Linked DNA regions of Homo sapiens. The protein of the gene in region 2 purifies or fractionates together with the protein of the main gene of each other region. This does not show direct contact. Each region holds a gene or a part of one and is shown on either strand. Other genes may lie near its edges. The genes, in order: CLPB, SRMS and HEPHL1.

Region 1 (3,650 bases), on a different chromosome or scaffold from region 2:
AACTTGGCCACCTGGTAGAAGGAAGGAAACATGCTAGGAAGGCCTTTCTGTGCTTTTAGTTTCCAACATGGGGCATGCATGGGAAGATGACTTTATACGCTATTAAGGTTGCCTCTCTCAACAGAGATGATTGGCTGTCCATCTCCTGGTGTGGCAGATAGATCTTCTCTATGTTTATTCTTCAGAGCAAATCCTATGTGAAACAAATCAGTGACCCTGCTGCACACCTGTGCTCCCAACGACAAATCCCAAGGCTGCTGGAATTATCTGAGGCCCAAATGACAAGACCCCGGCAGTCATGCTGACAAGCCCTCCAAACCATGCTTCAATCAAGGACTGTCATCACTCACCTCGTGTCGCTCCTGGAACTCGGACATGTCCAGCCTGATGAAGCCCTGTGTGGAAACAAGCAAGTACCAACTCCGTTTGGAGGCAGGAAAGTGAAGAGAAGGGTTAGGGAGGAGAGCACCTCAACTATCCCCAAGGCTTTCACACCACACCAACATAAGATCTTCTATCTCACGCTCAAGATGTTTTTTTCTGACTTCCTGTCTCCTTTTCTGTGCACTCATTTCCTACGAGTCCCTCATTCTCTTCCTTAAAAGACCCAAATCATGTACCTGACCTTCTAAATCTGACTTGGGGTGTCTTCTTTCAGGGAGGCCTCTCCTGTTCTGATCACCACATCATCCACCCACCCATCCATCCATTCCACGTTTCCTGAGGGCATCCTGTGTGTGCTGGACACCGGAGTTACAACAGGGAACAAGTCTTGGTCTCTGTCCTTAAGAAGCACCCCATCGAATGGTGCAGACATGGACAAAGTCAGTCACGATCAGTGTGGACTGTGGTGCGAGGGAGGAGAGAAACACTCAGATGGCTCCAGAATGCCTCTCAACTCTGCAAGTCTGTGTGATGCCCGTGTCCCTTTGATTTACTTTTCTTCAAAATGAATATATTTTAAAATGTATTTACATTTCTTCATTTCATTAAAAAAGATATCCATAACATAGCTTTACAGCCCTTTTCTCTCCACCACAGGGTGTAGGGGTGATTTCCGAGGAAGTGGCCCCATGGGTGAGGGCCATGGTTAGCCCTTGGGGAAGAGAACAGCTTGCATTATGTGATCTGAAGAGTTAACACAGGCAGAGTGCCCACTGGTTTTCAAGAAGCATTACCTGATTAGGGAGCTGTAAAGGCATCCACAGGTGCCCTGTCTAGCCACAGCCAGGACCACAGTTCCCCACAGTCCCCCGGGCTCCTCTCCTACTGGCACATGCCTCCATCTAAGAGACAGCATTCACTGAATCCTGCTTCTCCTGAGAGCCGGTGATGATGGGGGTGCCAAGATTCTCAGCGGGAGGTAGCTATGTCTGAAATCCAGGGCTATATTCTAGCTTGGCCACTGGTCAGAAATTCACGCCATGATGTACTTTTAGTTCTTTCTCTGTCCTGTCATTCTACAGCTGAGACACAGGGTGGCAAGAAGAACCCTGGGCTGGGAGCCAGGGGGCTCGGGTTCCAGTCCTAGTTCTGCCTGCCTGTGGAGCCTTGGACATGCTGCCTCCCCTTTTTGAGCTGCAGTTTTGTCCTGTGTTACAGAAGGCTCTTGGCTCCTCTCCCTGCCTCACCAGGGGTCTGAGGATCTAATCCAAGAGGTGGGACAGGGCTTAGAGAAGTTATTAAGGCCACATGGGGGAAAGCACTGCTATCAGCACATGGGGCATAAGCCAGAAAGCATTTCCAGAGGGTCCCTAGGCTGCTCAGTCAAGAGATCTGCAGGTTTCAGGATTTACTGGGTATTTACTATGTGCCTGGCAATGTTTTAGGCAAGCTATAAAGGGCTTAGAACATGTACAAGTCTCTGAGGTAAGCACTACTATCATCTCCACTTTACAGATGAGAAAACTAAGTCACAGATTAAAGTAACTTGCTCAAGGTCACCTGCGCTTGGCAATTCAGCTCCAAGTCTGTGCTCTTAGCCATCATGCTACACTGCCTCATAGCTTCCTCTCTGCCAATCAGCTGGGCTCTTGACAGTCTTCACCTTGAAGGGTGCTGAGCTTTGTGTCCAGATGCCAATGAATGTCGGACGACAGATGGACTATAGACTCTCGTGCTTACTTATGTCAAGTGACCTGGGTTCTCACCCTAGTTCTTCTAATGATTTGCTATGTAATTTTGAACAAGTTTTTGGGCTTGACTTTCTTGGCCGGAATCATCATTTTGATTTCACATGATCTTAGTGAGGCAAGAACAATAAGAGTAACATCCAACATGTACTGATTGCTTACCACATGCCAAGAACGGCGTTTAACATTTTACATCACTATCTCATTTAACCTTCCGAACAATCCAGTGAGACTGGCACCATTATGGAGCCTACTTTACAGATGAGAAAGCTGATGTAAACAGAGGTCCTGGCCAACTCCACCTAGTAGAGTACAGTTGGGATTTGAACCCAAGCAGCTGGACTCAGATAGTTGTTCTTTATCCCTTATCATATTGCTACTATAACTAAGTCTTTTGGGCTCCACCACCCTACCTTATGATGATATCACAGAACACCATTAAGGTTCCTTCCCAAGGCTTATTAGCTCTAGTAAGGAAAGTTAACAGAGCCACTCAATTTGGAAGAAATAGTATACAGGCTAATGAGAGAAAAAAATAAGTTCACAGATCTGATAAAGAAATCATATAAATGTACAAAGAATGCTTCTGAAGCAGCAAGATCTGGAGGTGTCAGTGTCTCTTTACAAATGAAGAAACTAGGGATCAGAGAGCCAGAACTAGAATTCACATCATCAGACTCCAGGCCAGTGCTCATTTCATTTCGTCAGCTGTCTTGGGAGGCAAATTAAAGGGAGCTTCTGTTTGGTAAAAGTCTATTTTACACTGGGCTCTGAGAATGACACTTTCCATACATCACTCTTTGGGTCCCAGGTACACTGGCTACGTAGCTTAAAGTCCAGGGCTCTCTTGGATTTTGAAGGCAGGTCTCAAACATGCCTGTCATGTGGCTATAAAGTGTCTACGCAAAACACAGATTCTATAATGAGTTGACCCACAGGGCTAGCACAGGCAGGAGTTTCATAGAAGCACCACCTATGATTTAAAAATAAAATACATGGTTGTTTTTATGGAGCTTCTCATGCCTCTCATCTCCCAATGTGAAATGGGGACACACTGGCAAGTTTCCAATCCAGCTTCCTAGAGCAGCTGAGAACAACGGTATCACAGTGAGGAGTTGAGAGACTGGATTGATTCTGGTTTTATTTCTTCCCCTAATAGGTGACCTTAGATAAGCCTAAGAATGCTGTAGGGCCTCAGTTTTCTCATCTGAAAAGTGGGTCTAATTTAGCATCCATGCTATCTTCCCCATAGGATCAAATGGGAGAGTAGATGGGGCACTGCTATGGTAAGTAGGAAGTGACGAATAAATACAAGTCAAGGAATAGGCACTTGCTGTGTGCTCACCATGATGTGATGACATAAGTGATGAGCACACAGCATCGTCACTTGATGCTCACCATAACCTAAGATATGGGTTGGAGGGCTTTCACCTTGAGGCAAGAGAGCTGAAACTTCAAGGGGTAAAGTTTACCTGCCTAGGGCCAGTAGAAAGTAGAAGCACCGGAACCTGAAGCAAA
Region 2 (3,750 bases):
ACGGCGGTGGGTGTGGGGAGGAGACGGCGGCGGGGGGAGTGGAGGGGAGGAGACGGCGGGGGTGGGTTGTGGGGAGGAGACGGCGTCGGGGGCGGGAGGAGACGGGCAGCGGGTGGGGGGAGGAGAGGGCGGCGGGGGCGGGAGGAGAGGGCGGCGGGGGGAAGCGCGGGAGGAGAAGGCGCTGGGGCCCCTCGAAGGCCACCCCCAATGTAGTATTTACAATTCTCCACATTTCTCAACACCCCCCACCACCCCCAGCAGGGCACCTCTCTGGTGCAGAGCCTGCCCTGAGCCTGGCGATGTCCAGTCTCCCAGGGCCCCTGCTGGCTCCAGGCTATCAGCCCGGACACAGCTTGGCTGCTGGGGTGCCCTGAGAGCCAGGCCACGGGTGTCACTGCCACCCCACAATGCACACACCAGTCCCCAGACGTGAGGTTTCTGAGAAGCCCATCTGTGACTCCAGGGCAGGCAGGTGCGAGGGGCTTGTCATTGGCTGGACACTGGTCACGCCTATTGGAGGGATGCATTCAGCCACACGCATGAAGTGGGGGCATGGATGCGTGTGAGATGTGGGAAAGGGGCGTGAGGCTCCCTGAAGGCCACCCAGGTGCGGAAGGGGCTGCTGGGGGAGGCCGGCAGGAGGAGTGAGAGACTGCAGATGGCCTCACCCCACCCCCGTGCCTCAGGACCCAGAGGGGAGGTGGGAGGAGTGAGAGACTGCAGATGGCCCCCACCCCACCCCACTCAGGACCCGGAGGGGATGTGGGAGGAGAGAGAGACTGCAGATGGCCACCACCCCATCCTCCTGCCTCAGGACCCTGTACCGTGCTGCTGGGTTTTGCTGGGATTTGCTCCCCCAGTCCTGCCCCGATCTGGGGACCTACCTGAGCGGGCAGAGTTTGCTTCAGCATGCGGGGGCTTGGCGCTGTCCAGGGAGAGGGTGGGAGGTCCCCAGCCAGGGACTCACCCGCCGCCCCTTCTCCGTGTGCTCATCCCCCTGAACTGGGGCCAGGCGTCCGCAGCCTCCACTTCCCCGCAGTGGCCTTTGGGTATGGCCTGGGCATTGACTGACTCAGAAGCCGGTCATCGGGCAGCATGGGGCATCTGGGTGCCTGGCCTGCGGCCGAGCTCCCTGCAATCAGCATCTCGTTTTACTGCATGAAAGCCGGGGTGCTGAGAGCCCCCTCACTCGCCTGTCCTCAGAATTTACTGCAGAGGCCGGAGGCTCGGCACCTGGTGCAGGGTTAATGATGTTAAAATATCTGGCCAACACTTAAATAAGCAGGCAATTTTTCACCTGAGTGCAGCTCAGGCTTGGCAACCACTGCAGGTGCTGAACAGCAGCGCTTCTCCGTGGAACCCCCACTTCTCCGTGGGCACGGGCGGCTGTTGGACTGTGGTGCCCTTGGGCATGGGCCAGGCCTGACTGGGCAGAGCCATTCCGCCTGCCTGGGCCTTGCAGAGGGCGGGAGAGAGGCTGGCCCTGCCCACCCCGCCCTCCTCGGGCCCCTCCTGGAGCCCGCCCCCGCCCCAGCCCAAGCTGCCCTCTGCCGTCGGGTTGGGGAGGGGACGGTGCACTCCAGACGCCAAGGAGGTCGAGGACAGGAGGTGCTGTCGGTGTGCCTGAGGCAGGGGGTCCGCCCTGCGCCCCACCCAGCCCCAACGCCAGCCCGGACGCCGGTGGGAACCGTGTGCCTCCTGGATCCAGGGGACCTCTGAGTGACCGCAGGGCCGGGGTCCCCTGTCACCCCACGGCCAGGGCAGGGAGCGCTGGACACCGGGTCCCACCGGCCCTGCCAGTTCCTCTTCCGGGCTCGCGGGCTCCCATGGCCCTCGGGCCCAGCGTGGTGACCCCGGGGGATGGAGCCGTTCCTCAGGAGGCGGCTGGCCTTCCTGTCCTTCTTCTGGGACAAGATCTGGCCGGCGGGCGGCGAGCCGGACCATGGCACCCCCGGGTCCCTGGACCCCAACACTGACCCAGTGCCCACGCTCCCCGCCGAGCCTTGCAGCCCCTTCCCTCAGCTCTTCCTTGCGCTCTATGACTTCACGGCGCGGTGTGGCGGGGAGCTGAGTGTCCGCCGCGGGGACAGGCTCTGTGCCCTCGAAGAGGGGGGCGGCTACATCTTCGCACGCAGGCTTTCGGGCCAGCCCAGCGCCGGGCTCGTGCCCATCACCCACGTGGCCAAGGCTTCTCCTGAGACGCTCTCAGACCAACCGTGAGTACCTCGGCCTCGGAGTCAGAGCCTGCCTCGCCCCCAGCTGGGGAGTCCAGAACAACGGCAGGATTTTGAGTTGGAAATCGCATGTCCGTGGCTATCTGTTCATTCATTCGTTCATCCACGCATTCATTCAGGGACAGCTGATGGGCCCCGGGCCGGCAGGTGTGGTAGGAAAACAGCAGTGTCCGCTGTGGGCTGCCGAGAGGGAGAGGAGGCTCCGGCAGGCGTGGTCAGGTCCTGTGGGGGGGAGCATCAGCTGCACCAGCTGGACACCCAGCAGGCGGTTCCTCCAGGACCCTGCCTGGCTGGCCAGGCCCTCCCGCCCTCACACAGGGAGTCCAGTGTTCATGGATCGGTCACTGCTTGGAGGGCAGGGGCTGGGGGCTGGGAGGCACCAGATGACAGGAGCTCCAGGAGCTCTGGGTGACGGCAGGTGAGCAGGGGCTGGGGGCTGGGGGCTGAGACAGGGGCCCATGCTCCAGGAACTCTGGGTGAGGGCAGGTGAGCAGGGGCTGGGGGCTGAGACGGGCCCACGCTCCAGGAGCTCTGGGTGAAGGCAGGTGAGCAGGGGCTGGGACTGGGGGCTGAGACAGGGGCCCACGCTCCAGGAGCTCTGGGTGAGGGCAGGTGAGCAGGGGTTGCAGAGGCGCCTAGTCCAGATGCCCAGTGCGGCTGCTCTGAGCGGCTGCCTTGGTCTGGCATCCAGCTGGGCAAGGCCTGAGCCCTGGAGACCTTCGGGGTCAGCCTTGCTCAGGGCCACTTCCAGCCTCCTGGGGGCCCTTTGGCACTCACACATCGTCCTGGGGGTTGCATGGGCGGGTGAAGCCGGAGTCACAGGAAGGGGCCTTCTGAGGGGCCCCAGGCCCTCACCCCACACCTGCCCCGCTTGTCCTGAGCAGTGGTTGGGGGGCAAGCAGCCTTTGTGATGGGAAGGGGCTCACAGTCACCCCAGGTGTGGAGGACAGACCCCTTCAGCAGTTCCTGGAGGGCAGGGCTCGTGGTGGAGCAGGGCGGTCCATAGGCAAAGCTAATGACTATTTGCCTAGGCTGGAGATTAAAAGACTAACCACACTCAGGTGTCATTAGCTCCAGACACCTGGCCCCACGCCCCAGGGAGAGACCTCAGACACATCCTCTGCATCTCAGGATCCCACAGGGGCTCACCTCTGACCCCCAAGCCCTGATGTGGGCTTCAGAGGAGGCTGGCGATGTTTTGGGGAAACACCTGTGTCTCATCCCCACACCCCACGGTGCTGGGAGGGACCTGAGTCCCTTTACACGTGAGAGGGTTGCGTCTCCCTGCCAGCAGACCCCAGAAGGCAGGGGCCCTGGCTGCAGGAGGAGCTCCATGGACAGAGCGTCCATGGAGTCAGTGCCTCAGGCCGCTGCCTCTCTGTCCCTGGTCCCACACCTCTTCCTGTCTCCATCTTCATTCCCTTCAACTTAAGCCCAGCCCCACGGCCCTGGTCATGTCAGTTTCTATTCCTGCTGCCCCCATTGCCCCCTAGGTCACCGGGGCAGGGGTGCCAGA
Region 3 (3,650 bases), on a different chromosome or scaffold from region 2:
GAAGTAGATGTGTGTTTGCAAACAATCCTTCAAGACTGGAAAAGGGTGGGGTATTGTGGCACACGCCTGTAATCCCAGCACTTTGGGAGGCCAAGGTGGGAGGATCACTTGAGGCCAGGAGTTCAAGACCAGCCTGGCCAACATGGCAAAACCTGTCTCTACTAAAAATACAAAAATTAGCTGGTCATGGTGGTGGGCACCTGTAATCTCAGCTACTGGGGAGGCTGAGGCACAAGAATCTTTTGAACCCAGGAGACAGAGGTTGCAGTGAGCTGAGATTGTGCCACTGCACTTCAGCCTGGGTGTGACAGAGCGAGACTCCATCTCAAAAGAAAAAAAAGAGAGAGAGACTGGAAAAAGAGACCTAATCAAGTAAAGGAAAAAATTTAATTAAAAAAATCTAGACTATGGAAGATAATTAATATGTACAAGTTTTATTGATCAATTTATTTAAATTTACTAAAATAATTTAGAATTAATTGTGCTGCCTAAGTCATCAGGCATTTCAGCAACAATTGCTTTTAACTCAGTTCGAACTTAAGAAGGGATATTGTGACTTTTTAAAGCCCTGAATCAAGTTCTTTTCTGAACTTGGTCAACTCCCAGCTGCCATTTAGATGGTTTTAAAGTATTCGGTCCTGGATTTACGCCATAAACTTAATAAGATTCTGCTCCAGCAACATGTAGTAAAAACTGTTTTTCTCTTGGCTTTTTAAAGTAAACAAACAAACAAACAAAACAGTTCTCATAAATTCCTTTTAATCAATTCCTTTTCTTTCCATCTTACTACATGCTTTTGTCACTTCATTAAGTAGATACTATGTGCCAGTTTTTCTGCTAGGTCCTGATAACTGTTAAGATGAACAAGACAGGGTTTCTAGTTCCAAGGAGCACAGAATCTGGTGAAGACAGCAGATATGCCAGTGAAGGATTATGACAGAAGGTGACTGAGCCTCCTGTAAATATGAGCAGCACTCTGTTTTCTCCTGACCTCATATTGCGTTCCCACAGCAGCTCCGAGGCTGTTCTCAGTGTATGCTGATCTTCACTTTTATTGAGTGTTTTCTCTGGAAAAAGGCCAATAAAAACATTTCATTTCTCTTTTGGACAATATATATTTCTAAGAGCCAGGTTTTTCTGCACCAAAACCTTACAACCAATGGTCTGCACTGGTTTTCCAGCCATGCTTAAGCCCGTATTACCAACATTTCTGGTCCCAGTCGCCTCTGCAGGGGAGTCTCTTCCACTAGCGTGTTTCTGTTTCCAGCCCTCAATGGATACCTCTTCGGAAACTTCCCGGAGCCTGATATGTGTGTTGGAGAATCTGTGTCCTGGCACCTATTTGGAATGGGGAATGAAATAGACATCCATTCTATCTATTTCTATGGTAACACCTTCATCAGCAGAGGGCATCGGACTGATGTCGTCAACCTGTTCCCAGCCACCTTCCTTACAACAGAAATGATAGCCGAGAATCCTGGGAAGTGGATGATAACCTGCCAGGTCAGCGACCACCTACAAGGTAAAAAGGATAAAGACCAGAGTTGATATGTTTAGAATGGTACAATCAAACCACACAGTCACTAGTGCTCATCCAGTACCTACTGTTAGATAGAGCCTTGTATGTACTATATTTAATTAGGTAATAAATATACAGGAAAATATAACGCTCATCTCTTTGATATTCTATCAACAGATATTTATTGACCACTTCTGTATGAAAAAAGTGGGGAAGTGATTAAAAATTGATGAGACCTTCGAGGAACCTGTAGTATAGTTGTTAGACATAGTTAGACATTCACAAAATGAATACGATTTAAGGCAGAATGAGATAAATGCTCTTTGGGTGTTGCAGTCACTACTCTGGAGCAATCAGAGGGGCTTCCTGAGGAGCTGGCTCCTAACATGAGCCTTGAAATATGAGTAGGAACTGAATAGATGAAGAAGGAAAGAAAGACTTTTGAGGAAGCAGCATGAACTGGGAAAAACACATGTTCTTTTTGAGCAACTGTAAGTAGAGTAATAAGGTTTTAGCACTGGAAAGGACTTTCTGGATAATAAGGACCAATCCCCCCTCGAATTATTTAATTTCGTTTTGAACATCTCTTGTGAGTAGTTATAGCAGCTCATCTCATCTCTGGACTGCTCTATTGGAATGTTCTTCCTCAAATTGAGACAAAATCCATTGACCTATAGCTTCCTTCATGTCCTATGATAGGTGCATGATAAACATTTGTTGGCTTAAATGCCTGTTGAATGACCTGGTCCTGGTTTCTTCAGACATCATACACTATGTCCTTTCTTAGCTGGACCATAATGTTCCTTACAGAGAAGTGATGACAGAAGAGCCTGGGAGGCTCATCAGGCCCCTTAGCAAAGCTAAGGAGGTGGGGCTGTGTGATCCTTAGCTCTTTTGGCACACTAGTGACATAATCGGTGCAGTTATTTAAGAAGATAAATGTATGCATGCAAGAAGGACTTGATGGAGGAATTCTGACCACTGGATGCTAGTTAAGAAGCATTTGACAGTGTTAGAGGTCTAACACCTAAACGTCTGCCCTAAGATGATGAAACCAAGACAGAAAAAATATGTTAATGGAATAGACACAGAAGAAATAATGTCTGATATTTGGATACTAACTTCCCATAGTCACTAATAGGTGCAAAGATCCAGCTGCTCAGGGCTGCTTTTGTAACACATTCTTGTTCCTGTCCACCTTCCACAGTGAGTCATAGCATTAGTCAACTGCAGTATCCCAATTACATTCAACTGAAAAATTAATCAGTTAATATGTACTAGATGCTCTTCTGGGAAAACAAAGATTAACAAGAGAAGGTTTCTATTCTCAAAGAGTCTTATGCTGTTAAATCTGGGAAGAAACTGTAGATTTAAAATCAAGATATTAGCTGCCATTTGAGACTAGTAAGATCGCTAAATTAGCCCGATAGTTGTGGACATAAGCTAGTATTTATACGTTCCCTGAAATACAGTATTTCTAAATTGTCCATGCCTTCAGAAAAAAGTTATTGTAAAAAAATTAGAAAATACATATAATTGGAGGTTTTTTAACAAATAGAGACAGGGTCTTGCTATGTTGCCCAGGCTGGTCTCAAACTCCTGGGCCCAAGCAATCCTCCCACCTTAGCCTTTCAAAGTGCTGGGATTATAGGCATGAGCCACTGGATCTGGCCCCTATAAATTGGTTTTAAAATCAGTAGTTCCATAATAGAAATATTTTATATTCACATTTTGGTGAATATCTTCCCTATTTTCTATTTCTTAATATGTAAATATATATGTATTTTAAAAAATGAAATCAGTCTATTAATGCTGCACTGTAGCTAATTTTTCTCATTTACAAATATATCAGAAACACATTTTCATGTCGGTGAATATAGAGCTTACTTCATCATGGTTAATACTTCCAGTGTCCATTATAAGGAGATTACATCTTGCTTAATCAATACTCTATTGCTTAATGCTTATGTTTCCCACCAATTTTTTTGCTATTATAAACAGCACTGATGACTATTATTTATAGATGTTTGCACTTTTGTCTGAACATTTTCTTAGAAAAACTCCTAGATTTAGAATTTCTGGGTCAAAGAGTATGATTTTTTTAAAAAAGCTATGGACATACATTGCCACA

What was found.
Region 1: the proteins of SRMS (region 2) and CLPB purify together in Homo sapiens (affinity purification with mass spectrometry; 2 studies listed by BioGRID and IntAct, with this or other methods). This does not show direct contact.
Region 3: the proteins of SRMS (region 2) and HEPHL1 purify together in Homo sapiens (affinity purification with mass spectrometry; one large-scale study listed by BioGRID and IntAct). This does not show direct contact.

The regions. Positions count from the first base shown.
Region 1 is NC_000011.10:72,301,954-72,305,603, forward strand, and holds part of CLPB (mitochondrial disaggregase), read right to left. Parts: intron 1,009-3,650; exon of another isoform or gene 396-1,008; coding exon 351-395; exon of another isoform or gene 12-350; coding exon 1-11. UniProt on the Homo sapiens protein: Functions as a regulatory ATPase and participates in secretion/protein trafficking process. Has ATP-dependent protein disaggregase activity and is required to maintain the solubility of key mitochondrial proteins.
Region 2 is NC_000020.11:63,545,574-63,549,323, reverse strand, and holds the start of SRMS (tyrosine-protein kinase Srms), read left to right. Parts: upstream 1-1,574; 5' UTR 1,575-1,860; coding exon 1,861-2,216; intron 2,217-3,750. UniProt on the Homo sapiens protein: Non-receptor tyrosine-protein kinase which phosphorylates DOK1 on tyrosine residues. Also phosphorylates KHDRBS1/SAM68 and VIM on tyrosine residues. Phosphorylation of KHDRBS1 is EGF-dependent. Phosphorylates OTUB1, promoting deubiquitination of RPTOR.
Region 3 is NC_000011.10:94,066,229-94,069,878, forward strand, and holds part of HEPHL1 (ferroxidase HEPHL1 precursor), read left to right. Parts: intron 1-742; exon of another isoform or gene 743-1,067; intron 1,068-1,206; exon of another isoform or gene 1,207-1,267; coding exon 1,268-1,522; intron 1,523-3,650. UniProt on the Homo sapiens protein: Is a copper-binding glycoprotein with ferroxidase activity. It oxidizes Fe(2+) to Fe(3+) without releasing radical oxygen species. May be involved in the regulation of intracellular iron content.